Homo sapiens: one gene and its partners. The protein of the gene in region 1 purifies or fractionates together with the protein of each later gene. This does not show direct contact. Each region holds a gene or a part of one and is shown in the gene's direction. Other genes may lie near its edges. The genes, in order: ZMYND19, ITM2C, RMND5A, TMOD1, CCDC183, PRAG1 and MKLN1.

Evidence for each region.
Region 2: the proteins of ZMYND19 (region 1) and ITM2C purify together in Homo sapiens (co-immunoprecipitation; one large-scale study listed by IntAct). This does not show direct contact.
Region 3: the proteins of ZMYND19 (region 1) and RMND5A purify together in Homo sapiens (affinity purification with mass spectrometry; 4 studies listed by BioGRID and IntAct, with this or other methods). This does not show direct contact.
Region 4: the proteins of ZMYND19 (region 1) and TMOD1 purify together in Homo sapiens (affinity purification with mass spectrometry; one large-scale study listed by BioGRID and IntAct). This does not show direct contact.
Region 5: the proteins of ZMYND19 (region 1) and CCDC183 purify together in Homo sapiens (affinity purification with mass spectrometry; 3 studies listed by BioGRID and IntAct, with this or other methods). This does not show direct contact.
Region 6: the proteins of ZMYND19 (region 1) and PRAG1 purify together in Homo sapiens (co-immunoprecipitation; one large-scale study listed by IntAct). This does not show direct contact.
Region 7: the proteins of ZMYND19 (region 1) and MKLN1 purify together in Homo sapiens (affinity purification with mass spectrometry; 3 studies listed by BioGRID and IntAct, with this or other methods). This does not show direct contact.

Annotation. Positions count from the first base shown.
Region 1 is NC_000009.12:137,584,199-137,588,120, reverse strand, and holds part of ZMYND19 (zinc finger MYND domain-containing protein 19), read left to right. Parts: intron 1-297; coding exon 298-404; intron 405-1,013; coding exon 1,014-1,154; intron 1,155-3,922. UniProt on the Homo sapiens protein: May be involved as a regulatory molecule in GPR24/MCH-R1 signaling.
Region 2 is NC_000002.12:230,874,197-230,877,555, forward strand, and holds part of ITM2C (integral membrane protein 2C), read left to right. Parts: intron 1-1,423; coding exon 1,424-1,612; intron 1,613-2,660; coding exon 2,661-2,771; intron 2,772-3,203; coding exon 3,204-3,354; intron 3,355-3,359. UniProt on the Homo sapiens protein: Negative regulator of amyloid-beta peptide production. May inhibit the processing of APP by blocking its access to alpha- and beta-secretase.
Region 3 is NC_000002.12:86,726,791-86,731,246, forward strand, and holds part of RMND5A (E3 ubiquitin-protein transferase RMND5A), read left to right. Parts: intron 1-4,456.
Region 4 is NC_000009.12:97,560,441-97,564,896, forward strand, and holds part of TMOD1 (tropomodulin-1), read left to right. Parts: intron 1-2,291; coding exon 2,292-2,381; intron 2,382-3,597; coding exon 3,598-3,728; intron 3,729-4,456. UniProt on the Homo sapiens protein: Blocks the elongation and depolymerization of the actin filaments at the pointed end. The Tmod/TM complex contributes to the formation of the short actin protofilament, which in turn defines the geometry of the membrane skeleton.
Region 5 is NC_000009.12:136,799,047-136,803,502, forward strand, and holds part of CCDC183 (coiled-coil domain-containing protein 183), read left to right. Parts: intron 1-55; coding exon 56-177; intron 178-666; coding exon 667-744; intron 745-955; coding exon 956-1,123; intron 1,124-1,342; coding exon 1,343-1,447; intron 1,448-3,617; coding exon 3,618-3,740; intron 3,741-4,456.
Region 6 is NC_000008.11:8,326,835-8,331,290, reverse strand, and holds part of PRAG1 (inactive tyrosine-protein kinase PRAG1), read left to right. Parts: intron 1-2,829; coding exon 2,830-3,581; intron 3,582-4,456. UniProt on the Homo sapiens protein: Catalytically inactive protein kinase that acts as a scaffold protein. Functions as an effector of the small GTPase RND2, which stimulates RhoA activity and inhibits NGF-induced neurite outgrowth.
Region 7 is NC_000007.14:131,445,874-131,450,329, forward strand, and holds part of MKLN1 (muskelin), read left to right. Parts: coding exon 1-30; intron 31-4,456. UniProt on the Homo sapiens protein: Component of the CTLH E3 ubiquitin-protein ligase complex that selectively accepts ubiquitin from UBE2H and mediates ubiquitination and subsequent proteasomal degradation of the transcription factor HBP1.

The DNA of each region.
Region 1 (3,922 bases):
TCTCACTGCACCGTGGGCTTTTTTTAAGGGTAGGAAAATGTATTTGTCTATGTCCCATTGTATTTTGCAGAGTTGTTTGTGAGTGTTTCTTGCTCGAATAGACAGAGTGGTGGTGGGCCACGCTGGCCCCTGGGAGCCATGTGCCTGTGGGAAGCTCTGCACTCCCCAGGGTCTCAGGGACAGGGCTGGCATTTGTCCCTCTGGCTTGCTTGTTTCACTTGGTTTTTCTAAGAGGGAATTGAAGTGTTGCTGAGAATTGGAGGTTTTTTAACAGCTCTTTCCCTTGTTCCTTCTCAGGCCCGAATGGAAGTGGATGCAGATGGAAATGGTGCTAAGATATTTGCCTATGCCTTTGACAAGAACCGAGGAAGGGGCTCTGGGAGACTCCTTCATGAGCTGCTGTGGTGGGTGTTTCCAAGCTGTCTCTGCCCCCCGCCACTGGGCTCCTGGGTGAGCTCCGATGGCACAGGGCGCCTGGAGCCCCCTGCCCCGCTGAAGCCCTGCCTTGCCTTCCCTGAATCTCGCAGTTATTTTTGTGTCCTTCACCACTAACCCAAAGGAACGAATGATTTGTATGTTGCACTTCAAACACCAAGTGGACTTTCTGCTGGGAGCTTGCCCAGGACCGGCAGCCTCTGGAGGGACGGTGGTTGCTCCCCTTGCTGGGTTTTGCCGAGCCCCCCCGGTGTGCATGGTAGGGACCACTCAGATGGGGAGCTGTCTCGAGGCCATCTGCTTAGGTGGTTTTGCGTTCCAGCTTTGGCTGTCTGTGCTCTGAAGTCCAGGGGCCGGGTCCTCCCTGTGTCCCTGTCCTGTTTGGGCCACAGATCAGGTGCTTGGGTTTCTCTCAGCAGCTTCCGCCTGAGGTACCCTCATCCAAAGGACCAGGGGCCCGATCAGATCACATGGCTGACATTTCTTCCTGGAAGGACTTTGGTACCTGACCAGAAATGTCTGTGAGGGTGGGAGGCAGCGATGCAGGGTTAGATGCAGGGTTTGCTGTCTGTTTCTAGGGAGCGGCACCGGGGGGGCGTGGCCCCGGGCTTCCAGGTGGTGCACCTCAACGCTGTGACCGTGGACAATCGCCTGGACAACCTGCAACTGGTGCCGTGGGGCTGGCGGCCCAAGGCTGAAGAGACCTCCAGCAAGCAGAGGTGGGTCTTCTCAGGGCCTGGCGATGCCAGCAGAGGCGCCTTTTGAGGAGGGCCACCGCCAAAGCTCTTGTTTCCAAGAGGGTCTCCTGTTCCTCCTCTGAGCCCTGATGCTTCTGTGTATTTTGGGAATTTCATTGTTTTTCCCCAAAGCGTGGAATCCTCCTTTTCTTCATGGGAGCGGGAAGGATCTTGATGGTGTGTGTTTTTGCATTGCTCCTCTTATAATTGGCTCTGGGAACCTCCCTTTAGCTGGCATGACAGTGGGGAGAAGGGCTGCCTGCTCCAGGGCAGGGCCAGCGTCGGGACTCGGTGTGAGCAGGGCTTCTGCCCCACACCCCTGGGAGGCATCAGCCTTCTCTCCTCACCTCAGGATTCCTTCCTTCTCTGCTCACCTCAGGATTCCTTCCTTCTCTCACCTCAGGATTCCTTCCTTCTCTCACCTCAGGATTCCTTCCTTCTCTCACCTCGGGATTCCTTCCTTCTCTCACCTCGGGATTCCTTCCTTCTCTCCTCACCTCGGGATTCCTTCCTTCTCTGCTCACGTCAGGATTCCTTCCTTCTCTCCTCACCTCAGGATTCCTTCCTTCTCTGCTCACCTCAGGATTCCTTCCTTCTCTGCTCACCTCAGGATTCCTTCCTTCTCTGCTCACCTCAGGATTCCTTCCTTCTCTGCTCACCTCAGGATTCCTTCCTTCTCTCCTCACCTCAGGATTCTTTTCTGTGCACACAGATGGGTCTTTTTGTTGTGTTCTTTTGCTAAACAGTTTTCCTTAAGCAAAGGTTTAAAGCGGAGAATGGTTCAGGGCTCAGCCCTCGGCCCCCGACCTGCCTGTGATCCTGAAAGCAGTGCTTTGCATGGGCTTCCCACCTGGGAGGGCGGTTCCTGCTGGCCCTAGAACCAGCCAGTCTGTGAACTTCATGGAGCCCTTGGGAAGAGCCAAGGGACCAGCAGGATAGGGGTTGGGAGCCCAGTTGAGCCAGGGAGTCCCCAGCCACACACGCTTCACTGACATGTTCCCCTGGCGCCCTGGGGCTTTTGGGCACGTCCTCAAGCCTCTGGGCAGCCTTTCCTGGTGCAGGCAGTGCGAACTGCCCTAGCAGATGGTTGTCAGCAACGCTGGTAAGGTTTAGTGTTTCGGGCTTGGTGATGGTTGGTGGCTGTGGGTAGAATCTTTGCAGTTGTCACCTCAGAGTCATGCCAGAGCCCTGGGCAGCCGAGGTGGAAACAGTGGGAGCACCTGACACACTGGTTGGTGATGTGGGGACAGTCCCCAGGCCTCCAAAATGCCACTCCCAAACTGCTGTTCCTGCCACCCTGGAGGGAGTCCTACAAATCCCCCCCCATCCCTTCCTCACTGGGCCTCTCAGGACGAAGGCAGAGCCTGAAGTGTCTTTCGTTCTTGTTGGGCTGGTGTTTTTTTTTCCCTGCTCTGTTTATTTCATTAAATTAATTAATTTTACGGATGGGTCTCACTATGTTGCCCAGGCTGTTCTTGAACTCCTGGCTTCAGGGAATCCTCTTGCCTCAGCATTTTTTTTTTTTTTTTTTTTTGAGACGGAGTCTGGCTCTGTTGCCTAGGCTGGAGTAGCGCGACCTTGGCTCGCTGTAGCTTCTGCCTGCCCAGTTCAAGCAATTCTGCCCCAGTCTTCCTAGTAGCTGGGGTTACAGGTGCCCACCACCACGCCTGGCTAATTTTTGTATTTTTAGTAGAGGTGGGATTTTGCCATGTTGGCCAGGCTGGTCTTGAACTCCTGACCTCAGGTGATCCGCCTGCCTCAGCCTCCCAAAGTGCTGGGATTACAGGCGTGAGCCACCACGCCTGGCCCCGCTTCAGCCTCTTGAGTAGCTGGGATTACGGGTGTGCACCACCACGCCCGGTCCTTGCTCTAATATTAGAGTTTTGACCTTCCTCATACTGCTTGTGAGTGAAGCCAGGCCTCTTACGATTGTTGAATGGGGTTTTTATTCTTTCGGGGATTATGTTAGTTGGAACTTTGGGTTGCAAGAAACAGAAACAAAGGTCAATTTGGCTGAAACAAAAATAGGGTACATTTTGGTATCCTGACTGAAATGTGGAGAGCCAGGGATGCTGCTGCCTCCAGCTCTGCGCCCCCACTCCCGGCTCCTCTCTGGGAGGCGGCATGGGCACTACCTAGCACTTGCGGACTGAAGCAGGCACCCTGTTCTAGTGGTGTCTGGGGAAGCCCTGGGATGAACTGTAGTTAGCTTGCTTAGAATCACTTTTCTACATGAAAAGGGAAGGGGAAGGGGAAGGCGTGCTTGGCAGGCAGAGCAGCATCTGTAGCATCTCCTCCTGCGTTGTCCCACATTGATACATGCTCAGTGTTGATGCTGGGATGGGCCCTTCCCAACTCCGCAAGTTCGCCCGCTGCTCACCACTCCACCTGGCAATGCCTTCTGTCCCTGCCATGGTGCGGGTCATTTCAGCCGGTTCTCAACAAGACTCAGGGTCCGGCCAGCCTGTGACTGAATGTTACCTTGAATCCTCTCAGCACCCTTTATAATCAGGAGAGGAGATAACTGCCGTTAAGAACAGCCGTTTGGAAAGGGGGTGTTGGGCTGATGCTCCTGGTCAGCCCATTCTCTGTGGGCACGGCAGGATGCCCATTCTCTGAGGGCACAGCAGGACGAGTTGCGCTGGGGCTGCTGCCTTACACAACCCCCTGCTACAGGAGGTGGGCCTGGGGTGGCTCAGGACTGATCAGGCTCAGCCATCTTTGGTTTGCCAACATGGGGTTTTAGAACC
Region 2 (3,359 bases), on another chromosome or scaffold:
ACTTGCCAGTCATTTATGACCCAAGTGACCTCCCACTCCTAAGCGTTTAACTTTGTTGTCCCCCAGTTTTTCCACGATGGAAATTGCTGAAGAGTTTGCATTCACGGGGCTTTCCCCTTGAAAGCTCAGCTCACATACACCCATCACCTTCCTTTCTGTGCAGCATCCCCCTGCCCCGCCCCACTCCCTCCATGGCCTGCGTCCCCCTCGTTCCAGGGTCCTGTGTGGGACCTTCCCACAGGCCTCTTCCTGTTGTGGCCCTACCCTAGGACCTGGGCCAGCATTTCCTGGTCCCCTCTGTTCCACCCTCGACTCACACCCTTCTCCCCACACCCCAATTCGTTGTGTGGACACCTCCCAGCAGCCCCTGGGTCTGTGCCCTGGGACAGTATTCGGGGTGTCCAGCCACTGTGGGATGCAGCCCCGGAGCCTCACCTTCCCTGGGCTCTCATCCCCGCACAGCCCACAGGAGCCCCCCATGCTGCGATGACGCATCCTCCCTGGAGAACTTGCACTGAATCAAACAGACGGTGGAATCCTGCCGATCCCAGGCCAGGCAGTCCCAAGCATGTATCTACAGGCCCCTCCAGGAGCCCCCTCCAGAAGTAAGAGTGGGCAGACTGGCCCGCCCGGCCATTCAGTTGATGGGATCACACCAGGCTGCCTGGCCTCCCTTACTGATGGAGTGACTGGACTGGCCCACCAGACACAGTGTCTGTCAAGGTTTCTCCAAGACAGGGGTCAGGGATATCCAGGAAGGGCGATGGCACTTGTCCGAGGCTGGATGTGGAGGTAACCGTGATAGGGGCACAAGACTCTTAACAGTGTTGCCTCCAGCTCCACCTCCCCACCCGCCGTGTTAGGCCCCTCCAGGTCTGCAGGCCAGGACAGCAGGTGACAGGAAAGGCAGTCGTGCACAGGCGTAGGTGCCCAACTCTTAGGTTCGTCCTTGACCCCCTGCCAACCCCAGGCTCTTTCTCTGGTGTCTGCACCTCTGTGGAGGGCACGGAGGTGGCCAGGTCCTAGTCCTGCTGGGCCACCCCTTTTCCCAGTCACCGACTCAAGGACTTGGAGGCCAGAAGGGACCTTAGGGATCATCATGCTTTACTGATGGGGAAACTGAGGCCCAGAGAGGTCTGCCACCTAGAACCTGGCAGACCCAGCTCATCCTCCCTTCCGTTTGTGAAGCTGGGAAGCGCCTTGCCCAAGAATCAGCTCATCTCCTCACTGGCAGCCCCAGACCCTGACCTGATGCCCCACCGTCTCAGTTTCTCCATCTGCGAAATGGGTCTCACAGTCCCTGCTCTTCTTGCTTCCGCAGGCTTTTGGGGCATGTAGCGGACGGGTAGGCAAGAGGGGGCCTTACGGAGTGCGTGTATGACCAGCCTCTCTGACTGTCTGTCTGTCTCTCCGCCTTGCTCAGCTGGCCCGAGATAACTTCTTCCGCTGTGGTGTGCTGTATGAGGACTCCCTGTCCTCCCAGGTCCGGACTCAGATGGAGCTGGAAGAGGATGTGAAAATCTACCTCGACGAGAACTACGAGCGCATCAACGTGCCTGTGCCCCAGTTTGGCGGCGGTGACCCTGCAGACATCATCCATGACTTCCAGCGGGTGAGGCTGGCCAGGGCCTGGGGGTGGGGGGTGGGAGGGTGTCCCGGGGACTCAGGGCAAGGGGAGCAGGGATGAAAGGAGACTCCTCGGAGTACAGCAGGTGTCTACGGTTAGGCTTACCAGGGTCTTCAAGACACTGCTTTTCTCCTGTTAGCAACAATGGTTCTTGCTGAGTATGAAGCAGCCGAGGCTGATTTTCTCCTCAGCCTCCTGCCAGCTGCACGCTGGCTGTCATGGCAGGGCCAGTGCGTTGTATCGAGGGGTAGTACATTCACCATCGAGTGCATTGCGTGTACAGCTCAGCGGGTCTCTGCAGAGTGGGTCTCATGCGTATTCATGTAACCCCCATGGGTCCTGAGACAGGGCATCTCTCGCTGGGGTCCAGGCTGTCCCAGGAATGGCTGGCCCTCACAGGTTTCATAAATGCACAGCTGGGATGTTACCATGTTCCCCAAACCTCAGCTCTGTAAACATGAGAAGAAGCTTTATAACAACAGAGGCGTTTAGCAATCAGCTGCTATTTTCCTCTATCATGTGGCACCTTCTACAACAGGCTAAGAGAAGACCAGGAAAAGGGAGTGCCCGCCCAGGTATTGAGGAGTCTGGAGAGGACTCTGCTCCTGAAGGCCCAGGGTCCCAGGAAGGCATGGTGGGACTCCTGCCCCTGCTGGCCAAGCTGCTTTTTTTTTTGGAGACAGAGTCTCGCTCTGTCGCCCAGGCTGGAGTGCAGTGGCACGATCTCGGCTCACTGCAAGCTCCGCCTCCTGGGTTCACACCATTCTCCCGCCTCAGCCCCCCGAGTAGCTGGGACTACAGGTGCCCACCACCACGCCTGGCAAATTTTTTGTATTTTTAGTAGAGACGGGGTTTCACCATGTTAGTCAGGATGGTCTCGATCTCCTGACCTTTGATCCGCCCGCCTCAGCCTCCCAAAGTGCTGGGATTACAGGCATGAGCCACCGCGCCTGGCTGGCCAAAGCTTCTTGCAGCCCTGCCTGGGTCAGCTGTCACCTCCTGCAGAGACTGACCCAACCCCTTCTCCTGCCAGGGTCTGACTGCGTACCATGATATCTCCCTGGACAAGTGCTATGTCATCGAACTCAACACCACCATTGTGCTGCCCCCTCGCAACTTCTGGGAGCTCCTCATGAACGTGAAGGTGCGCAGGGGGTTGGGGGGATGTCTGCAGCATCCTGTCCCTCCCTTGCCCCCTGTCTCATGGAGGCTAGGTCTGAGGTACAGGAAGTTCCTGTGTCAGGGGTTGGGGGAGCAAGAGACATTGCTGGCACCTGGGCCCTGTACCCAGATTGGTCTCGCCTCTGCTATCCCCCTGCTTCCACATCTCCAGAGTCAATGCCCCGAGACCGGCTTCCTTAGTGTTCAAGGTTGTACCCTGGGTACGGACTCGTGCGCATGCCATTGCTCCTGGCAGCACAGGTGCAGGCACCGGGCACAGGCAGGAAGTGCCTGAGGACATCAGAAGGGCCAGCCCAGGGGCCTCTGGAGGAGGGAGGTGGGCTGGCATTTCGGGCGAGGGGTTGGACGAAAGCCTGAGGGGCCGACTCACTGTGGCGGCCACCTTGTTTTGCAGAGGGGGACCTACCTGCCGCAGACGTACATCATCCAGGAGGAGATGGTGGTCACGGAGCATGTCAGTGACAAGGAGGCCCTGGGGTCCTTCATCTACCACCTGTGCAACGGGAAAGACACCTACCGGCTCCGGCGCCGGGCAACGCGGAGGCGTGAG
Region 3 (4,456 bases), on another chromosome or scaffold:
AGGCTGAGGTTAGGGCTAGGCTGGCTCCAGGGGCACCAGGCATGTCATCAGGACTGATCTTGTTCTCTTCTGTCAACTGTTGGCTTTATTTTCAGGGTAGTTTTCTTCACATGGGGTAGAGATGACCAATGGAGCTCAAAAGACAGGAACATGGCCATTTTGTTGGAGATACTCCAGGGAGTACCTTTATTATTCCGTTATGGATCCTTTCCCTGAATCAGTAACTGGGACCAGGGAGTGAGGTCTTCTGGCCACCTTGAGCTGTGCTCACCCCCTCAGGAGGTATATGGCCTTATAATACACTGTTCATCAGGTAAAGAGACAGTTCTAGAAAGGAACACTTAAACCCAGACAGAGTAATATATGTCTATTACAGTGCAACAGCTACATGTTATATCAGTAACATTCTCTGAGATGTTTTCCTGACTAGCCTCGCCTTCTCAGCTTTTGCCTGGCCTCCTAACTATAATGCTCATATAATTCAAGTAGTGAGTTGTTAGTATGACTTAATCTATAGACTAGAGAATACAACTTGGTTCATGTTCCTCTAGAACTTTTTTGAAATTACTTTAATGCTTGACATAGTAAAGTAATTTTCCTAAAGTTATTTTATTTCTAAAGTAGTTTCTAACTCTGGATAATAACATTGGTAAGGAGAAACTTGCCAACACTTCTGTGATACTGTCATACTAGAGCTAATAGAGAAGTTTCTGTTGTTTTCATGTCTTAGTCTCTTAGTCTTTAGGATGATGAAAATGGTGTTTTAGCAAACTGTTCACTTGGAATATTAAAACTAACTTATTTTTATTTAGGGCCCTGCTTCTTCATCTGTAAGGCTTCCAAAATCTTTAAAAATGATCCAAAAATGCAGTTTAGGGAGAAAATTGTGGAGGGCCCTGGCTCTGAGCTATGTGTACTTGGAGACCCGTGGTACTTCCAGGAGATGATGCTCTCTAACTGGACGTTTCCTTGAAAGCTCTGAGAGTAGCAGACACTTCTGGCCATTCTCTTTAGATTAGATGTTAACTCAACCCTTCAGAGAACAAAGACTAGACTGTCTGGCAGGACTCGAGGATTTTGAGAAATACAGTATGCTTTCACCTTATATGGGTGTGGTGATTGTGTGGCTGAGCTCAAAATGGTTGTTTGGGAATGTCGCTTGGAGAGGCCATAGGCTTATATTACCAAGTCTTTCTCCACTTAAGATGGAGGCCTGGATGGTGATTTCGTCTGTTATGGGGGCACAATGTAGTGTCAGGCTGTGTGTTATTTATGATGAGTTTGTTGTATCTGCAGAATTCATATAGGTTTAATTCATCTTATTGATACATGAAGACATTTGGGAGGAGATGAGGAGAGAATCTTTTAAAAGAAACATTATTCATGGCCCTGGTCCTCCAGGAACTTGGAGGCTAATTGAGAAGATGAATCTGTATTTGTGGAATAGTACCTAAAATTTTGACCCTGGGCCCAGGAGGTCTGGGTTTGAATCCTTGCACTGCCAATTTACTGGTTCTACAATCTTTTTTTTTTTTTTTGGAGACAGAGTCTCACTCTGTCACCTAGGCTGGAGTGCAGTGGTGTGTGATCTCAGCTCACTGCAACCTCTGCCTCCAGGGTTCAAGCGATTCTTGTGCTCCCAAGTAGCTGGGATTACAGGTGTGCACAATGCATGGCTAATTTTTGTATTTTTAGTAGTGACGGAGTTTCACTATGTTGGCTAGGCGGATCTTGAACTCCTGGGCTCAAGTAATCCACCCGTCTCAGCCTCCCAAAGTGCTGGGATTACAGGCATGAGCCACCACGCCCGGCCTGATCCTACAATCTTGCTTAGCCAGTTTTTCCTTCAGTAAACTGACATCACAGAGTTATGAGAGTGAAATAAATAATAGACGTGAACTGGCTTTGAAATTTGTAAAACAGGGTAGACGTGTTATTTATAAAGTCTGTGCCTTAAGTGGTGTTAAGCTTTTTTTTTTTTGAGGCTGAGTCTCGCTCTGTCACCCAGGCTGGAGTGCAGTGGCATGATCTTGGCTCACTGCAACCTCTGCCTCCCAAGTTCAAGCGATTCCCCTGCCTCAGCCCCCGAGTAGCTGCGATTACAGGCGCATGCCACCAGGCCTGACTATTTTTTTTTTGTATTTTAGTAGAGACGAGATTTTACCATGTTGGCCAGGATGGTCTCGATCTCTTGACCTCGTAATCTGCCCGCCTTGGCCTCCCAAAGTGCTAGGATTATAGGCGTGAGCCACCACGCCGGGCCCAAGCACTGTTTAATTGAGACATTTTGGGTAATATTTAGGTGTCTTTATTACTGGTTTATGTTAAATACCACTCTGTGTCCAGTGGTCTGCTTAACATTGTAAAGAATGCTTAAAAGGTATAAGAAAGAGTCTTTAAGGAACTTAGAAGTTAGTTGGAGAGACCAGACTCATATTTGAAAGGGGGAAAAAACAAGACCACGGCACACAGTGTATAACAGTGCTTCTGGTGAGTACAGACACCAGTGAAGAGAGAGAGCCCTTAGAAAGAACTGCATGGGAGTAGATGGGCATTATTTCAACTGAACTTTAGATCACCTCATCAGTAGTTATTAATCACCATTTATAGGTAGAACTAAGCAAAATCTTCTAGGAGTTACAAAGAACAAGCATTTTCATCCTCTAAGAACTTTGTGTCCAGTTAGGGAGATGAGACTGGCATTTTTTAACAAACACACAAACAAAAGCAGTGCCCTGTAATGCACGGTTATGTATCTAGGCTAGATGCTACATGAGTGGTGTGGACAAAAAGGGGTGGGATTTGAGACAAGGAGAGACTCTTTTTACCTATGGGAAGTTTTAGTAGCAGAGATTGAATATGGATAGCAGAAAGAGCAGATGGAGTGCCTGGAGGGGAGGATGGCAAGAACAAAGGTGTAGAGGAGTGAGAGGTGAAGGACCAGATTGCAGGGGAAAGGCGATAAGAGCATTAAAATTAAATTGGAATCAGGTTTTGTAAAGCCATGGATACCAGGGAAAGTAGTAGACTGGGAAGATATTGAATTACTTTGGGGTGGGGTGGGGACATTTTGAATAGGGAGGGGACAGGGACACGATCAGAGACCAGTTGTCAGCAGTATTTAGGTTGGTTTGGAGTTGGGAGTGAGGTTTGACTAGAGGCAAGAACGTTAGCTAAGGCTAAGTGTCAACCTAGATTTGATGAAATAGGGACCTGTCTTTGGGTACTGGTGGTAGAAATTTAAAGGGACACATGAAAGGGATTTCTGAGGGAAGGAATGACCAGGAGTTGGTGCACAGATGGAGTCTGGCAGAGTAGGAGAAAAGGGCAGGAAAAACCAAAGGTTAATCCAAGGTTTTAAACATGAATGATGGGTAGATCATTATGGAACCAGGTAGAAAATAGGAAGTTTAGGAGAGGGGAAGGTGGAAATCTGAGTTTGATTTTTTTTTGTTTTTGTTTTTGTTTTTTTGGGGGGTGGGGGAGGGGGGGTCTCATTCTGTTGCCCAGACTGGATTGCAGTGTCTCGGCTTACCACAATCTCTGCCTCCTGGGTTCAAGTGTTTCTTCTGCCTCAGCCTCCTGAATAGCTGGGATTACAGGCATGCGCCACTACCGCCTGGCTAATTTTTGTAGTTTTAGTAGAGATGGGGTTTCACCATGTTGGCCAGGCTGGTCTTGAACTCCTGAACTCAAATGATCCACCCACCTCGGCCTCCCAGAGTGCTGGGATTATAGGCGTGAGCCACTGCACCTGGCCTGAGTTTGATTTTTAAATATGAAATCCAGATTCCAATGCTACAGGAAACCTAATGTGGTTCCACCATTCATTTCAGAGATAAATGAGATGCCTAGAGATTAAGTCTTTATATTTGGAATTTGAAGGGAGTGAATAGGTTCTCTAAAATGTGACTGTCACAGACATATGTTTAAAATCTTGTGCCTGTATCTTTTTTCTTCTCTCTGCAATTCTTGCCTCATATACTTTGAAGCCTTTCCTGTCTTCTCTATGATAGTCATTGATACTGTTCTTTGCTCCAGGAGCACTATTAGTCTGTACCATGTAATTTCACTCTAAATATTAACTTTATTTCGTTTTTTTCCCCTCATGTTTGGTTTGCAGCACACTGTGCCTCTAATTTGATGCACAGTCTTTAATAATCTCTCTGGATCAGAACACGTGTCTGTCAGTCTACTGTTCTCTGAAAGGTCAGGAGTTGAACACCAAATACCATACTTTCTTTTACTTTGCAGATTTACCAGCTACTAATATACTGGAAAAATTTTGTTTTCAGTGTTTACCTCCTCCAGAAAAAAATGAATGTGTTCTATTTGTGCCTTTTCTCTTTCCTCTAAGCAGCCGCTGTGTCCTAGGTGCTGAAGTAGCTCACAAGAATCCCAAATTTCAATGGGCCGCAGTTTATTTTACTACAGACAAAATGAAATAGTCCCTTAT
Region 4 (4,456 bases), about 40 Mb from region 1:
GAACAACAAATATGTCCCAATATTGAATGGGGCGTACTTAGCTAAAAAAAAATCTGGTGTTGGCCGGGCGAGGTGGCTCACGCCTGCAATCCCAGCACTTTGGGAGGTCAAGGTGGTGGATCAAGAAGTCAGGAGTTCAAGACCAACCTGGCCAAGTTGGTGAAACCCTGTCTTTACTAAAAATACAAAAATTAGCCGGACGACAAAAAATACAATATTTTTTGTATTGTATATATATATATATAAAGTATTTATATATTGTATATATAAAAAATACAAAAATTACAGGATGACACTCCTGTAATCCCAGCTACTCGGGAGGCTGAGGCAGAGAATTCCTTAAATCTGGGAGGTGGAGTTTACTGTGAGCCGAGATCTCGCCACTGCACTCCAGCCTGGGCAACAGAGCGAGACTCCATCTCAAAAAAAAAAATTTGTTGTTTATCTAAAATTCCAAGTCAAGTGGGTGCAGAGAATCACCAGCAGAAGGGAGAGTACTAGCAAAAGCAGGAGCAGCTATGAGCAGGGGCTGTTTGTGTAGCTGGAGCAGAGAAGCTGTTGGGAGGGGGAGTGCAACAACACTGGTGAGGTGGGGCCAGCCCAGGGAAGGCCTGTGAAGCCAGGCTCTGGGTTTGGATTTGGCTGTACAAGCCACTGTCCTCCCATCTGGACAGCTGCAACAGCCTCACAGCTCTGCAGCCACATCCATCTCTCCCCTCTGTAGTGAGTTCTCAACACAATAATCAGAACTCAGGTCAGACCATCTCACTTCCTGCTCAAGCCTCTAATGGCTTCCCAGGCTGTTCCTAGGAAAAGACACCCGAACTCCTTACTCAGCCTAGAAGACCCTGTAGAATCTGACCTTGCCTAGGTGAATAAAATCTACTCCAGAGGGTTATTGGGCAGATCAAGGAGGGGAGTGTCAGGCAATGGTTCTCAACCTTGGCTGCTCATTGAAACCATCCAGGGAGCTTTAAAAATGCAGGTGCCTGAGCTCCACCCCCAGATATTTTGGGTTAATTGGTCTAGGGTGGGACTGGGCATCAGGAATTTCAACAGATCCCCAGGTGATTCCAGTGTGCAGCCAAATTGGGAATGATGGATACAAAGTGTCTTCCCTGGCCCAGAGCATGTGCTCAGTGAGAGGGGTGGTGTTGCCATGCGTCTGATTATTACCGCCACACATCCAGCTTCTATCCTGTTTCCCCCAGCAGTGATTGTCACAGCTGTGTCATCACTGGTGTCCTGGCCTTGGCCTCTTCCTACTCTCCACCTCCCAACATGCAGCACAGAGCAGCTGGAAAGGTCTTTCCTGAAATGCCAACCTGACCTTCCTCCCTCACTGGCCTGCCACTCTCTGAACCTCGAGGCTTTCCCACCTGCATTCCTCTGCCTGTAATGTTCTATAGCCCTTCTCTTAACTTGACCAACACTTACTCCTCCTTTGCATCCCAAGTTCCTCTTTTATGCTGTCTTAGGACTGAACTTTTTCCTCTACCACACTCAGCATACCCTGTGCTGGTTTTTCATTGTGTGGGAACTTGCTTGGCTCCTCTCTCCCCCAGCACACTTTCAGCTCCATGAGCGGAGACCCAGTCTTTCTTATTCTCCACTGTCCCCACCAGAGCCTAGCACACAGTGCTGGGGTGGGCCTCATTACATGTTGAACAAATGAATGGATGAAAGAATGGCTGAGCACGGGAGCAATAAGATCAGGTTGGCATTTCCAGAAAGAGCTTTCCAGCTGCTTTGTGCTGCATGCTGGGAGGTAGAGGGAAGGAAGAGGCCAAGACCAAGACACCCGTGATGACACAGCTGTGACAATACAGCCAAAGAATGATCAGGCCTCCATTAGGATGGAGATGATGGGATGGGAGGGGGACAGATCTCAGAGACACTGGGATGGTCAAATGGGCTTATGGGGAGAAGGTGCCACATTCCCTGATGTTTTACCCTGAGGGACAGGCAGGATGACAAGATGGAAAGAGAGCCTTCCAAAGAAAGAGGCTGTCACTGGAAAGAGCCATTCTGGTTTGGCCACGTTGAGCTGGATGTGCCAGCAGGACATCAGGGAATCAGAGGCCAGGGGCAGAGCAGCCTGGGCTGGGGCTGGGGATTTCAGAGTCACATCAATAGAGGTGAGAGTAAAAGTAAAATAAAATTTTGAAGTTTTCATGCAAGTGTTTCTTGCCATTTCTGTGAGCCAGAGTTCCCGGGGTTTGGAGTGTGGGTCCCTAGGAGGCTCTTCTGTCTGCAGAGGCACATCATGAGCCCTTCCCTTGTCCCTGCAGCGATCCTGGGCATGCACACGCTCATGAGTAACCAGCAGTACTACCAGGCCCTGAGCAGCAGCTCCATCATGAACAAGGAGGGGCTCAACAGTGAGTATGCGCCCGCCCCCAGGAGGGACCTCATGCTTCTTGCTTCCTCCACTCACTGATGTTCTCTGGCTCATTGCAGAAGTTTTAACATGTTATATAGCCAAATCTGTTCATCCTTTCCTTTGAGTCTCCTGGGATTTGTGTCTTGTTTACAAAGGCCTTCTCTATCCCAGTATTATAGAAATGTTCTCCTATATTTTCTTCTAAAAGTTTTAGAGATTTACTTTTTATATTCAACTTTTTCTTTTTTTAGACAGGGTCTTGCTCTGTCAGCCAGGCTGGAGTGCATTGGCACAATCTTGACACACTGCAGCCTGGACCTCCTGGGCTTAAGCGATCCTCCCACCTCTGCCTCCTGAGTAGCTGAGGCTACAGGTGTATGCCAGCATGCCTGGCTAATTTTGTTTATTTTGTATGGAGATGAGGTCACACCATTGCCCAGACTGGTCTCGAACTCCTGGACTCAAGCAATCCTCCTGCCTCAGCCTCCCAAAGTGCTGGGATTACAGGCATGAGCCACCACACCTGGCCTTATATTCAACTTCTTAATCTACCTGGAGTTCATGTTTGTGTGTGCTGTGGGATGAGACCAAACTTTCATTTTTTCGAATTAATATCCAGTGGTCCCAACACCATTCCTTGCAAGATTTATCCTTTCCCCACTAGTTTGGGGCCTGCCTTTATCATCCACATGGATCTGTTTCTAGGTGCCTCCTCTGTTTCATGAGCCCTTTTGTCCTTTCCTGTGCCAATATTGCATTGCCTTAATTACTCCACTGCATTGTTCCAAAGCTGGCATTTTGGCCCCAAACAGAAATGAGGCTGCCAAAAAAAATAATTATTCCTCCCTCTGGAAGATTGATGCATTTCTTTCCCATCCGGGCTTCATCTTAGCCTCCCAAGAGTCCACTGAGGTCATGAGCCCCGGGAAAATGACTAGCCCTGCCTTACAGATGTAGACCCAAGGTTCAGAGAGTTTAAGTAATTCACCCAGTTCTTGCAGGACGTCAAAGGCAGAGTCCAAGTAGAACCCCAGCCTCCTGGCTCCCTTGCGGGGCTTCTTCTGAGTGGTGCCCCCTACCCCCACCCAGCCCCTGTGATGTGCAGCCCTCACGTGCCCCAACCCTGCACATGCTCCCTTCCACAGTATCTTTGTGTTGGCAGAAAGTGAGCCCCTTGTTTCTGTGAGCCACCTCCCTTTCATCGGTCACTCTAGGCGTGATTAAACCCACACAATACAAGCCTGTGCCCGACGAAGAACCAAATTCAACAGACGTAGAGGAAACGCTGGAACGGATAAAGAACAACGACCCAAAACTTGAAGAAGTTAACCTCAATAATATCCGGGTAAGGTCCATTTATTTCACTTTACCTGTGTGTGGCTGGGGGAGGGGGAACCATGTCACCCAAATGCAAACGGTCCAGGGTTGGTTGTGCAGAGTAAACAGGGTCCTGTTTGGATTCTGGGTGTTTCTGCATTGGGAATAGGGACAAAACCTTTGCAAATGGGAGCCTTTAAGAGGGGTGGGCAGTGTAAACAAGTGCATCTGGCAGTCCTGGTTTCTTTCTGAGGATGATATCAGGCCCAGATGTTTAGCACGGGCCAACCCAGCTTTGATCTGGAAACCTGCCACGTTATTCAAAACACTGAGAGATTCTCCGAGATAAAATCATGAGTCAGACACACGCTGCTGCATGGGATCTCAAGGCTGGAAAAGTCCGGTGCCCACTAGGCTCGGGGGTAACACAGGCCCTGGGCAGGCCCCTCCCCTGTGCCATCGCTGCTGCTATATCACGTTCATATTCAGCCTTGTTTTACAGCCACAGAAGGGAGCTGTTGGCCAAAATGTCCAAAGCGATATCCCAAGCTGTCTGCCCTTTTCTCTGTGCACATTTCCTTATGTGATCCCGGGGCAGGGGAGGGACAGGTGGACAGGCAGTCTCACCCTGAACAGGCCGCCGCAGGAAGAATTCAGAGACAAATGCAGCTTTCTACCCACCTGCTGAGCCCAGAGACCAGTGGATTAGTTCTGGGAGGGGGGTGGGGGTAAGACTAGAAGCCAGCCCCCCATGCC
Region 5 (4,456 bases), 790 kb from region 1:
CAGGCCAGGCCCTTGGCCCAATCCTAGCCACTGTGTCCCCTCCACCTGCCCACAGAGCAGTGTCGGGCACTCCAGATCCAAGGGGTGAAAGAGAATATGGACCAGAACAAGGCCACGCTGGCCCTCCTGCGCAGCAACATCCGCCGCGGGGCCCAGGACTGGGCTTTGGCCAAGAAGGTACACAAACGCCGCCCCTCCCCTCTGCCTGGCGAGCAGGGCAGGAGCTGAGTACACACACACTCGGAGGGCGGGCACCTCCTCTCCACCCCCACCCCAATCTTTCTGGATCCAGGGGGCATGTGAGGAGGGGCTCTGCTAGGACCTGTGCCCTGGGCTCCAGTCACCCCAGCATCCGGTGGGCAGGTTTCCCACCACCCAACCCGAGGGCTTGGCATCTGTGAGCCCACATCCTGCAGCAGGGGCCCCCTCTGGCTCTCCGGCCAGCTAGGGGACACCCAGGCCCTCCTCTGCATACCCCCCTACCACGTCGCCTCCGAACTTGGATGGCCAGGATGGGGTCCCGCGGCTCTCTGCTCCTCGTGGAAGCAGGGATCTCGCTACTGGGCTAGCGTGGGATACAAGAGGCCCTGGGGAGAATGCCTGGAGGAGCCAGCGGCTGCGGGTGCGCAAAGGGCCCGCTCTAGCTCAGCCGCCGCCGCTCCGCAGTATGACCAGTGGACCATCTCCAAGGCCTGCGGGAAAAACTTGCCTTTGCGACTGGCGCACTGCCGCAGCACCATGGAGGTAACCAGGCAGGAGGGGCCTCGAGACCCAACCCTCCCCACCCCTGCCAGCACCCCCCCACTAGATGTTGCGGAGCCGACGAGGGACGGAGCAGGTGCCCAGCCCCAGGTTCCCTGTGGGGTTGCCACGAGCCTCCACCCGCCCGCCTGCTGGCGGGCTCCATGGCGGCCCCCTACGCAACCACGAGTGGGCGGTGCCCTTCCCGACCCAGGTGGTGCGGGAGAAGCTGCGCAAGTACGTCTTCGACCGCGTGAACATGCACAACCTACTGATCCACCTGGTGCGGCGGCGCGGGCAGAAGCTGGAGAGCATGCAGCTGGAGCTGGACAGCCTGCGGAGCCAGCCCGACGCCAGCAAGGAGGAGCTGCGGCTGCTGCAGGTGGAGAGGCGGGGCTGGGAGGGCGGGGCGGAGTCCACTGGGGCAAGACTCACGGGAGGGGCGGGGCCACCGGGGGGCGGGACTTGCGGGTCCCCTGGGGAGGGCTCACGGGAGGGGCGGGGCTAAGAGAGCACGACCCTCTCCGGAGAAAACCCAGCCCCGACACCCTCCGGGCGGCCGGTCCCCACGCCCTCTCACTGCGCCCTCGGTCCGCCCCAGATCATCCGCCAGCTGGAGAACAACATCGAGAAGACAATGATCAAGATCATCACCAGCCAGAACATCCACCTGCTGTATTTGGACCTGCTGGATTATCTGAAGACAGTGAGCCCAGCGGCCCGGGAAGGGCGGGGGTCAGGGGCTGGGATCTGGGAGGGGCGGGAGCGTCCTGGGGCGGAGCCGCCCCGCACCCGCCAGGGAGAGGGAGCTCTGCCTGACCACCGGCTACGCAGGACGCCGAGGCATGTGGAAAACGTTTTTTTAAACTTCATTTTTGGCTATTCCAAAAAAGCATATCGTGGGGTATATCAGAATTCTTCGGACTTTCTTGCACGTATTAAATGATTTGGTATTGTTTGTATCTTGCCTGTCATTTTCTCATTGCCTGGGCCTCTGAGAGTCAGACAGGTCCTGCACCCTCAGAAAGTCCTTGCACCTTTGAGGGTCCGCTGGGCCTGTAAGCAGGGCTTGCTGCCGTCCCAGCCAGCCCACCCGCCCTGCTCCCTGCAGACGAGGCCAAAGGCAGCCAGCAGTCCGATTGTGAGGGAAGACCCCCTTCATGGGAGGCTGAGCACCGCCCCTCGGGCTGCCACAAAGCAGAACCTACTCCAGATGGGCTGTAGATAGGGAGAGCACAGGAGGTGCTAAGAGGAGCAACCTGTGGATGGGGCGGGGAGCCAGCTGGAAACACCCTCACCCTAAGACTGGGCAAAGGGGAGCTCTGGAGAGCCATGCTTCGGGAAGGTGACAGCATGGAAGTGCAGTTTAGGAGGAGTGGTGGACGGAGGCTGCATCGCAGCTCTTTTCCTGCTGTGGTCCCAGCCCAGGTGGCTCTCAGCACCGTCCTCTGCTTGTCCCTCTTGCCTTGGCCCCTGGTCCTATTGGCTCACCTGGAAGCCCTGCCCCTCTATGCTTCCTGGGCCCACCCCTCTCCCCACCCCTGTCCATGCCCCTCCTTCGCCTGGGTGCTTTCTGTTCCTCTGGTAGCGCCTTCTTCTGTTTAGAACATACACACTTAAAAAACAATTATTCCCGGCCTGGGCATGGTGGCTCATGCCTGTAATCCCAGCACTTTGGGAGGCCAAGGCAGGCGGATCACTTGAGGTCAGGAGTTCTAGACCAGCCTGGCCAACATGGTGAAACTTCATCTCTACTAAAAATACAAAAAGTAGCCTGGCATGGTGGTGCATGCCTGTAATCCCAGCTACTCGGGAGGCTGAGGCACGAGAATCACCTGAACCCAGAAGGCAGAGGTTGCTGCAAGCCGAGATCGTACCATCGCACTCCAGCCTGGGTGATAGAGTGAGATTCAGTCTCAGAACAAAGGAAAAAACAAGCAATAATTCCCATAGTCATCCATATTTTTAAAAATGAAGATTCTACACTTCTAGTTTTGTTTTTGTTTGTTTTGTTTTTTGAGATGGAGTTTCACACTGTTGCCCCAGCTGGTGTGCAGTGGTGAGATCTCGGCTCACTGCAACCTCCGCCTCCCGGGTTCAAGCGATTCTCCTGCCTCAGCCTCCCGAATAGCTAGAATTACAGGCGCCCACTACCACGCCCGGCTGATTTTTTTTGTATTTTTAGTAGAGACAGGGTTTCACTATGTTGGCCAGGCTGGTCTCTAACTCCTGACCTCATGATCTGCCTGCCTCCGGCCTCCCAGTGTTGGGATTACAGGCGTGAGCCACCGCACCTGGCCTATACTTGTAGTTACAAAAAACAAACCACTATAGCAAAGCTATCCTGAGCACGTATGTACCTGGTTCTGGGCTAAATAATTCCTTTTACACTCAATTCATCCTGATGGCAACCTTCTGAACGAGCCATCATCTTACAAATGGGGACACAGAGAGATTAAGTAACTTTCCCAATGTCACACAGCTAAACTAGCTGGTCAGAAGCTGCCTTGGCCTTGAATCCTGACTCTCTGACCCCAAGCCCATGTCTTGAGCCCCTCTGTTTCACTTCAAAGCAGAACTGTCCCCAAACCTCCCCGGGTTTCAGTCAGCCTTTTCTGCAGAGCATTTCATCACAAACTCTCTCAGTCTCTCTGGGTTGTTGGACCCTAGGTGGTGAAAGAGTCCACCAGGCCAGCACTGTCCACTCCCTGTGAAACACCTTTCATCACCGTTGTGCCCAGCGGGGAGTGGGGGAGGTGGCTGGGGCCACAGAGGAGAACCTATCACTGTTCTCAGGGCTCTTAGTCGGGGGATAAAAGCTCGGGGCAACTGCAGCCCACTCTGTAGGGGCCACAAGAGAACCCCATTCAACACAGGTGCTGGCAGGATACCCCATTGAGCTGGACAAGCTGCAGAACCTCGTGGTCAACTACTGCTCAGAGCTGTCGGATATGAAGATCATGTCCCAAGATGCCATGATGATCACGGATGAGGTCAAGGTGAGCTCAGGGCCCAGGGCTGGGGGCCCCCCAGGGCCAGCCCTCTTGGATCTTCGGATGGGGTCAAGGTGAGCTCAGGGCCCAGGGCTGGGGGCCCCCCAGGGCCAGCCCTCTTGGATCTTCGGATGGGGTCAAGGTGAGCTCAGGGCCCAGGGCCGGGGGCCCCCCAGGGCCAGCCCTCTTGGATCTTCGGATGGGGTCAAGGTGAGCTCAGGGCCCAGGGCTGGGGGCCCCCCAGGGCCAGCCCTCTTGGATCTTCGGATGGGGTCAAGGTGAGCTCAGGGCCCAGGGCCGGGGGCCCCCCAGGGCCAGCCCTCTTGGATCTTCGGATGGGGTCAAGGTGAGCTCAGGGCCCAGGGCTGGGGCCCCCCAGGGCCAGCCCTCTTGGATCTTCGGATGGGGTCAAGGTGAGCTCAGGGCCCAGGGCTGGGGGCCCCCCAGGGCCAGCCCTCTTGGATCTTCGGATGGGGTCAAGGTGAGCTCAGGGCCCAGGGCTGGGGCCCCCCAGGGCGGGCTCTCTTGTGTCTTCTGGCCAGGGTCTCTCAGGAGACCCCCATGCCCACACTGCCTACAATCCCCAGAAGGATCCAGTGGCCAGCCCGGCCAGCCTGCTCTGCTCACCCACTGGACAGAGCAGGTCCCATCCAGCACAGGAGCCATGAAGTAGAGGAGAGGGAGAGAACTGGCCGGGCCAGGGCGGGGGTCACCTATTCACC
Region 6 (4,456 bases), on another chromosome or scaffold:
TAGTAAAGACAAGGAAGACAAAATCAATAAACATGGAGAAATAAGCCTAAGGCTTAAAGAAGAGACTAACCAGGAAACTGATCTGTTATGAACCTCCCTAGCCGACTGGACTTGGGATGGGAAGGAATCCTGACCGTAGGCAGGTTGTCCTTGTCTCTGAGGGCACTGATGAAAGCATTGACCAGGGTTCTGATCACACCCCACTCCCATCTCCCAGCCTCAGCTTCTGTTGTGTTGATGATAAATTGAGAATCAGACGCCTCGCTGGTGACGGTTTCTGCTGCCCAGAATGCAGAAAGGTCAGGAAGTGGATGTGTGCTCACGGCTCCCAGTCCTCCTGCTCATCAGGCTGGGAGTTTGGTGACTGAGGCTTACAGTCCTTTGAGAGCCTCATAAGTAGGTGGTCTTACCCTCCTTTTTTTATCCAGGAGGTGGCAACTGATCCTCCTCCTGCTCTCAGCCTCTTCTGTTAGAGGGAGGAGGGAGAGGAAGTGAATCATCTGCCCTAGCCTCCGTCTGTCCCCATTGCTTTCCTGGGGAGCGTGGGATGGGGAGACCTGTGGACTGCAGGATTTCAGCACCTGCTGAGATCACTGCCATCTAGATCTTCCCTCTTCTGGCTCGCTATTTCTTCTGCGCCCTTCATTCTGACTATTGAGGGGGAAATTCGTGGGCATGTAAAAGTGACTGGTCCAGACTGCACCACCACTGCTTGATTTATTATTAACTTGAGCCCTCCTGGAAGGGGTATAAATCACTCACTCAGCCTTGCTGCCAGGGGCCCCGCCTATCATTAGCAAATGGGAAGGGCAACTCCCTATGATCTTGATAAACCACAGGGAAACAAGGATTGCTTACTACAGATGGGAAAGTGGGCAAGGAGAGCTTAAGAAACACGGTGCTCCCTCTTGAATTTCATTTTCACTTGTGACAGTCTCACTCTATAGCCCAGGTGGGAGTGCGGTGGCACAGTCTCGGCTCACTGCAATTTCTGACTCCTAGGTTCAAGTGATCCTCTCCCCTCAGCCTCCTGAGTAGCTGGGATTATAGGCATGCACCACCACGCCCAGCTAATTTTTGTATCTTTTGTAGAGTTGGGGGTTCGCCATTTTGCCCAGGCTGGTCTTGAACTCCTGAGCTCAAGTGATCCTCCCGCCTTGGCCTCCCAAAGTGCTGAGATTACAGGCATAAGCCACCGTGCCCAGCCCCTGTTGAGTCTTATGATAGATGATAGAGCCAAGGAGGATATTGGTGCAAGGACCCCATAGTCTTGCTCAGCTCCCCAGGGCTTTTCTTTGCATGAATCCATTGGTTCTCAGCTCCTGTGTTCAACAGGTTGCATGCACTGAGTTTGTCCTCCCGTCAGCGTTGCATTCAAGGTTGTGCCCTGCTGTCGCTCACTAATGCTGCCTCGGTCACTGAGGCTGGGGCATGAATGTCAGCCCATGGCCATCCATCTTGCTCCCTAGAGAGACCCTCCTCCCTGTGGAGCAGCAGAAATAAAGAGACCCAGTCTTGATCTATGTGGCTTGCAACTGGTGTTTGAGCCTCAGGGATCTATTCTGTTCCCTCTTGGGTTGGAGAAAGCAGAGAAGGGCTCAGTGTGAGCTAGAAGGTTATTAACTGTTCAGGAGCAGCCCTAGAAATGTCCTGTGCACCTGAGTGAGGTGACACAAGACTCATAATTTGCTTCCTTTGGGGCCTTCTACCCCTTGTCTTCTCCTATGCTTTTGTTCTGCTTTTTTTTGTTGTTTTCTGGTCCTACTGCCAAGGTGTGGAAAGGCATAGAGACACTCCATGCTCTTCCCTTAGGGTGATGTGGCATGGAGAACTCAATGAGGGGCACACATCCTAAGTACACATTTCCTTAGGGCTGCAACCCATTATTATTATTATTATTAGATGAAGTTTCACTCTGCCACCCAGGCTGAGTGTAGTGGCGCAATCTTGGCTCACTACAACCTCCATCTCCCGGGCTCAAGCGATTCTCCTGCCTCAGACTCCTTAGTCGCTGGGATTATAGGCACGCACCACCACCCCCAGCTAATTTTTGTATTTTTAGTAGATACGGGATTTCACCATGTTGGCCAGGCTGGTCTCAAACTCCTGAGCTCAAGTGATCCGTCCACCTCAGCCTCCCAAAGTGCTGGGATTACAAGCATGAGCCGCCGCACCCAGCCAAAAGGGAGAATTTTACCATTGGCCAGTTACACCCTCTATAAACCTGACTTTTAAAAAATTCCACGGAAACCACACATGTTCGAGTTTGTTATTGCTGTTGCAGCATTGTTTGCAAAATATTGGAAACAATTTAAGTGTCCATCAAAAAGGGATGGTTAAATTATGATACTTGCATATGGTGATATATTATGGTGAGACTGTTTAAAATAATTAAATAGATCTGCATATTTGATTTAAAAATCTCTCCAAGATGTGAAAGAAAAGCATTATTCCAAACAGTAGCCACCGTTTGCTCTTTTCTATGTAATTTGTGTGTGTGTGTGTGTGTGTGTGCGCACGCGTGCAGGCACGCATTTGTTTGGATTGTTGGAGGGATGCATGAAACACTACTGACAGTGGTTTCCTCTGATGAGAGAGCTGAGTATGAGGGACAGGGTAGGAGGAAGACTTAGTTGTCAATCTATACCTTTTCTGCATTTTGATTTTTTCCATTGTGCATATATTGTCTATTAGAGAAATAGAAAAGAAGTAACATAAAATTAATTGCTCTGACCAAATAAATAAATAAATAAAGGGAAACAAGTCTGCAGGACCCTGGAATTGAGTGGCACTGGCCTTGGTCTTATGGTTTCTGTCTCTCCTCTTCAGGTCCCTCGTCTGAGCTGGCTCACTCGCCCACCAACAGCGGGAAGAAGCTCTTTGCTCCCGTTCCGTTTCCTTCAGGCTCCACTGAGGACGTGTCCCCCAGTGGCCCCCAGCAGCCCCCTCCACTCCCCCAGAAAAAGATAGTGAGCCGGGCAGCCTCTTCACCGGATGGCTTCTTCTGGACCCAAGGCTCCCCCAAGCCCGGAACAGCAAGCCCCAAGCTGAACCTAAGCCACTCGGAAACCAACGTCCACGACGAATCTCACTTTAGCTATTCGTTGAGCCCCGGGAACCGCCACCATCCTGTCTTCTCCTCTTCCGATCCTCTGGAGAAAGCTTTCAAAGGCAGTGGCCACTGGCTTCCGGCAGCAGGGCTGGCGGGCAACAGAGGCGGCTGCGGGAGCCCTGGCCTCCAGTGCAAAGGGGCCCCCTCCGCCTCATCCTCCCAGCTGAGCGTGTCCAGTCAAGCCTCCACCGGGAGCACCCAGCTTCAGCTGCACGGTCTCCTGAGCAACATCAGCAGCAAGGAGGGCACCTATGCCAAGCTGGGGGGACTCTACACCCAGTCCCTGGCCCGCCTTGTAGCCAAATGTGAGGACCTCTTCATGGGCGGCCAGAAAAAGGAGCTCCACTTCAATGAGAATAACTGGTCGCTCTTCAAGCTGACTTGTAACAAGCCCTGCTGTGACTCGGGGGATGCCATTTATTACTGTGCCACCTGCTCTGAGGACCCCGGCAGCACCTATGCTGTGAAAGTAGGTACCACTCCCTCCTTGCATTCTGCTGTGCCACTGGCTGGTGCTGGCTTGGGCAGAACTGTGGCCTGAGCAAGTCATTTCACCTGTCTGGGCATTAGGAGGGGAGTTGATTCCTAAGCATTCTTTTTTTTCTTGTAAGATAAGAGTCTCACTTTGTTGCCCAGGCTGGAGTGCAGTGGCACAATCTTGGCTCACTACAGCCTCCGCCTCCCATTTTAAAGCGATTCTCCTGCCTCATCCTCCTGAGTAGCTGGGATTATCTGTGTGCACCACGGTACCCAGCTAATTTTTGTATTTTTAGTAGAAATGGGGTTTTGCCATATTGGCCCGGCTGGTCTTGAACTCCTGACCTCAGATGATCCACCCACCTCGGCCTCCCAAAATGCTGGGATTACAGGTGTGAGCCACCACCCCTGACCCCTAAGCATTCTTTTAACACTTAGTGCTCAGCAGCTTCACTCTCTCTCTGCCCCAGGACATGGTGCAATGAGATTTGTAGTATGAATATAAGACACATTCTGTGCTTTAGCTGAGTTAAGAAAACAGTTGCCTTTTAGTGCAACGGAGAGTTTATTCATTTATTGACCAGGTTTTTATTGAGTGTCTACTATAGGCCAGGTACTTTGCCACAATCTGAGTATGTAGGTGTGAATATAAGCTTCCTTATAGAGCTATGATGTAGTGAGGGAGATGGATAATGAGGTCATTCTTCTAATGTTAGATCCAGAAGGAGCATTCGACCTAGGAATCATCTTGAACAATAATAGTAATAATATCATTTGTGTGAGCATTCACTCTACAACTAGACTCTTACCTCTAATCCTAACAGTAATCCTACAGGTTAGGTAGGTTTTACAGATGGAGGATCTGAG
Region 7 (4,456 bases), on another chromosome or scaffold:
CAGATGGCACCAAGAAAGACTCTGGGATGGGTAAGGGCATTGAGTGATTTCTTCTCTCATGTCTTAACTACTTTAGGTAGAAAACTGCAGTTCATTCTCTTTTCTTTCTAATCATTTTTCACCCTTTCTTTATTTCTTTAATTGAGTAATTCCAAGTAAGAGAAAGAAAATTCTACCAGCTTATTCAGTTCTATCTATTTTTAAATATGGGAATTACTATTTCCTTCAAGCAGAAAATATGTGAATTTCTAAATGAATTGTGTGTGTGCTTGTTGGGGGGCGGGGTAGGAAGAATCAATATCTTAAAAACTTTTTATTCTGTGTTTGCTAATTTTTTTCATCTTCTATTTTCACTGTAGTGATCTTTATATTAGGCACTAGCATAGTAGGGTGTGTGTCTTAAGGGGGGAACTTCATGGGATTGGTAACACCTTGTAAGTTTAAAAGCTCAGCATCTAGGAGGTTATTAGTAGTGGAATGGCTGGTTTGCTTAGATTATGCATATTGCCCTGGCATAATTATTAATAGTGCTCCATTCATTTTCAAAAGTGTCCTGTTTTGATCATTTATAGTTACCCTACATAGTAGTTGCTTTGCCTGTGATTATTGTACCTAAAAGAGTGGCTTTAATTAAGGTGCAATGGTTTAAAATGCTAATTTGAACAATAGAGTGAGAAATTAAATCAGCTGCTTTTCTTTTTAGCTGTTGCTTATAGATTGGTGTTTTTATTATTGGCTCTTTTGCCAAATGTGGATAAAAGCACTTGTTTCACAGACATTGTTTCTGGATATTTTATTGATTAATACAAGCTTCCTTTAAAACAAAAACAACAAAAATATTTTTAAATTAAAATATTTGTTCACATTTAAGAAGAAAAACTTGTTTTAAAACAAACAAACAAAAAAACAAAAGATAGGCAAGGCACAGTCGCATATGCCTGTAATTCCAGCTAGTCCAGAGACGGACATGGGAGGATTGCTTGAATCTAGGAGTTTAGGACCAGCCTGAGCAACAAAGCAAGACCCTGTCTCTACAAAAAGGAGGTTTCCAGATAAAAGTAGACTCAATAGATATGTTAAGCATTTGGAAGAAAAATCTGTTGATGAGTATAAATAGCATCTAATGTAAAAAACGAAGGATAGGGACACAACAGGAAAAGCGAAACTTTTTATAAAAAAGGAGACATTATCACAGTAAATTTCTTGGCTTTACAGTAAGCAGTATTTCCCTAATCATAATGCAGAACTACAGCCAGTTTAACCAAAAATTGGGATGAAATATAGTGGGAAGATAGTGTAAGTGTAGTAAACATCTTCGTCTATTACAACAGGAAATTAGTAGGTAATGTCTAAAATAGCAGCTTAGCATGTGATTTAGAAATATGGACCTGAATAGGTAATAACATTATTTACCCTATCTAAAATTGTCTTATTTACTCATTTATTTACTGTTGCCATAGGAGAGTGTAGAGCTATATGATTTAATATTTGACTTTCTCTGGCTTTTAAGAGTTATTCTAACTTACCATTAAAATAACTAGGAGGGTCAGGCGCAGTGGCTCATGTCTTTAATCCCAGCACTTTGGGAGGCTAAGGTGAGAGGACTGCTTGAGCCCAGGAGTTTGAGACTAGCCTGGGCAGCATAGTTAGCCCTCATCTCTATAAAATAAAAATAAAATAGCAGGAGAGAGGTAATACTCCTTCTACAATCCTAAGATGGGTCTCCCTGAAAAAGGTAGTGAAGATAGTAATTGATATGACAATATGTTGAAAATTATGGCATGCTGACTCAGTGCTAGACTACGGACACAGTGGATACAAGGCAATCACAGTCTCTCAAAGTGCTTATAATCTAGCTAGTAGGTAATGTATTCCCATGGATAATAATTACTACTCTTTATTTAGACCCTACCATATACCAGAATATCTTTAATTGGTGGTATTATTCTAATGTACAAGATGAAAACAGTTACACAACTACGTAATGACAGAGCTGGGATTTAGAAGTTTGAGTGCAAGGAAGGTGTTTCTGCCATGCTAAACTACTGCCCAAGATTAAAAGAAAAAAGTGGCGGCCACGTGAGGTGGCTTACACCTGTAATCCCAGCAGTTTGGGAGGCCAAGACAGGTGGATCACGAGGTCAGGAGATCGAGACCATCCTGGCTAACGTGGTGAAACCCCATCTATACTAAAAATACAAAAAATTAGCTGGGCGTGGTGGCGGGCGCCTGTAGTCCCAGCTACTCGGGAGGCTGAGGCAGGAGAATGGCGTGAACCCGGGAGGTGGAGCTTGCAGTGAGCCGATATCACGCCACTGCACTCCACCCTGGGCGACAGAGCGAGACTCTGTCTCAAAAAAGAAAAAAAAGTGGCAATGCGTGATAGTGACAGAGAACTAGTAAAATAAAAATTCACCATGACAAGTAGGCTTTAATGACTGTCATTCAAAACAATTTTTTAATGAGTTAAAATTATGTAGTAATGTACAGTATCGACAATTATTCTTCAATCATGGTTATGGCTAGCTTTAGAGCAGTGTGGCAATTATTCTTTTTATTTAATTTTGTTGTGGTCATAAAAGTAAAAATATGCTCATTGTAGAGAATTTGAAAAATAAGATGCAAAAAAGAAAATATGTCAAACTGTCCAGAGATAACTTGTTAAAATTTTGATATATTTCTGTCTAGTCTTTTTAAAACTTATTTATTGTATAAAAGTTGATACAAGTTTGTATTCTATTTTAAAATTTACATTAAATTGTGGGATTTTTTCCATTATTGTGGTTTTATTAATGTGAACTGGAGATGTTATTAGAAAAGACAAATGGATTCATTGTTTGATTACTGCTATAATCAATTTTTCTAAAATCAAAATCACCATTTTTTACTGTGTGTGTTCAGTGTGTAATTGGTTTACACAATTGAATTTTCCCACAATGCAAATAAATTCATTAATAATATTTGTTGACCATCTACTAGCATCTAAGTTTGTCCCTCTCCCTTCCTCCTTCCCTCCCCACTTAGTTCATTGTCTTCTGTAGGCCCAAGATTATTTTAGGCACTTGGGATTCATCTATGGACCTGGAGGATAAGATCCTTTCCCTTAGAGGACTCACATTCTAGTGGAGAGAGACCTGCAGTTGTGTTCTAAGTACTGTGAATAAAATACACTGGATGCCGTGATAATGAATAACAAGGGAAGTCTCATTTAAACAGAGTAGGTTGGGAAACCATCTTTGAGGAGGTAATCTTTAAGATTTAAGATGAAAAGTAGAGAATTAGGAAGAACCATGTGAAGAACTGAGAGAAGAACAAGTACAGAGTTCCCAAAGCAGGAAGGAACCTGGGATGTTCAGAAATAGTGGGACTGGTACGTATTGAGGATTGGAAAAGTTGGTATGAAACTAGGTTAGAGCTACGGAGATAAGAGTCAGAGTATTTAGTGCCTTGTTACAAATGCAAGGAGTTTGGATTTTTTTTCTGAATAAAATAGATTATTCAAAGGTTTAATATCAGTGTCTTGATCTAAGTTTTAACAATACCACTTCTTTGTCTAGGTGTATATTTTCCAAGTGGTTAATTTTGACAATGTTCCTGTGAGTTGCATTGTTCAAAGGCTTGTTTACTGAGGATTTTTATGGCAGGGTTGAGCATCTGGTTAGAATTACTTGGAAAAATTTCCCACCTAAAACTGTTGCAGTTATACTTGGAATTGAGGAACCTCAGTGACTCTGTTAGCACATTAGAGTGAAATGGAAATTATTCTCTTTTTTTCTGTTTTTTTTTCCCCTCATCTCTGCCTCTCTCACTTTCTTCCTTTTCCCTCCTTCCCATTCTTTTTCCCATGTCCCTTTTACTCCTCCCCCAACTTTCTCTCTCCTAGAGGATTCTAATATGCGGCTGGGATTGAGAACCACTGTTCTAGCTCTCCGGAGTCTATTTCAGTCCTTAGTTAACCTTAAGCAAGTTACCTAATGTCTCAGCTTTTGCTTCCACATTTGTAAATGACCCAAATTAGATTTTAAGGAAAATAGCGTCTCTGTCCATGGCTACCCTAGGAGTAGAGATGGGTTAACCCTCTAGTTTCGACTGGTGTTACTGTTGGGTGCCTTAATTTTCACAAGAGGATGTTAATACTGCTACCCTCAGGTTCACTAATCTAGCCAGTTAACATCAAGTCATGCCAATTTTGCCTCATCTTCTCTCTATTCCCATTGCTGCTTCACTATGAACTAGTTTGGGCTAACATCACCTATTTGGCCTCTGTCTCTAGACTTCCTCTCCCTATGTACCCCTCCCTGCAACCCATTCTCCACACTGCAAGCAGGATACAGCTATTCTGTGTTACCAGTAAAGAATAGAACCATATGCCTTAACATTTATAGAGCAGATATTTTTTGGTCACCTACTAGGTGCCAGACAATAAGCTACGCACTAGGAGTACAACTGTGAATGA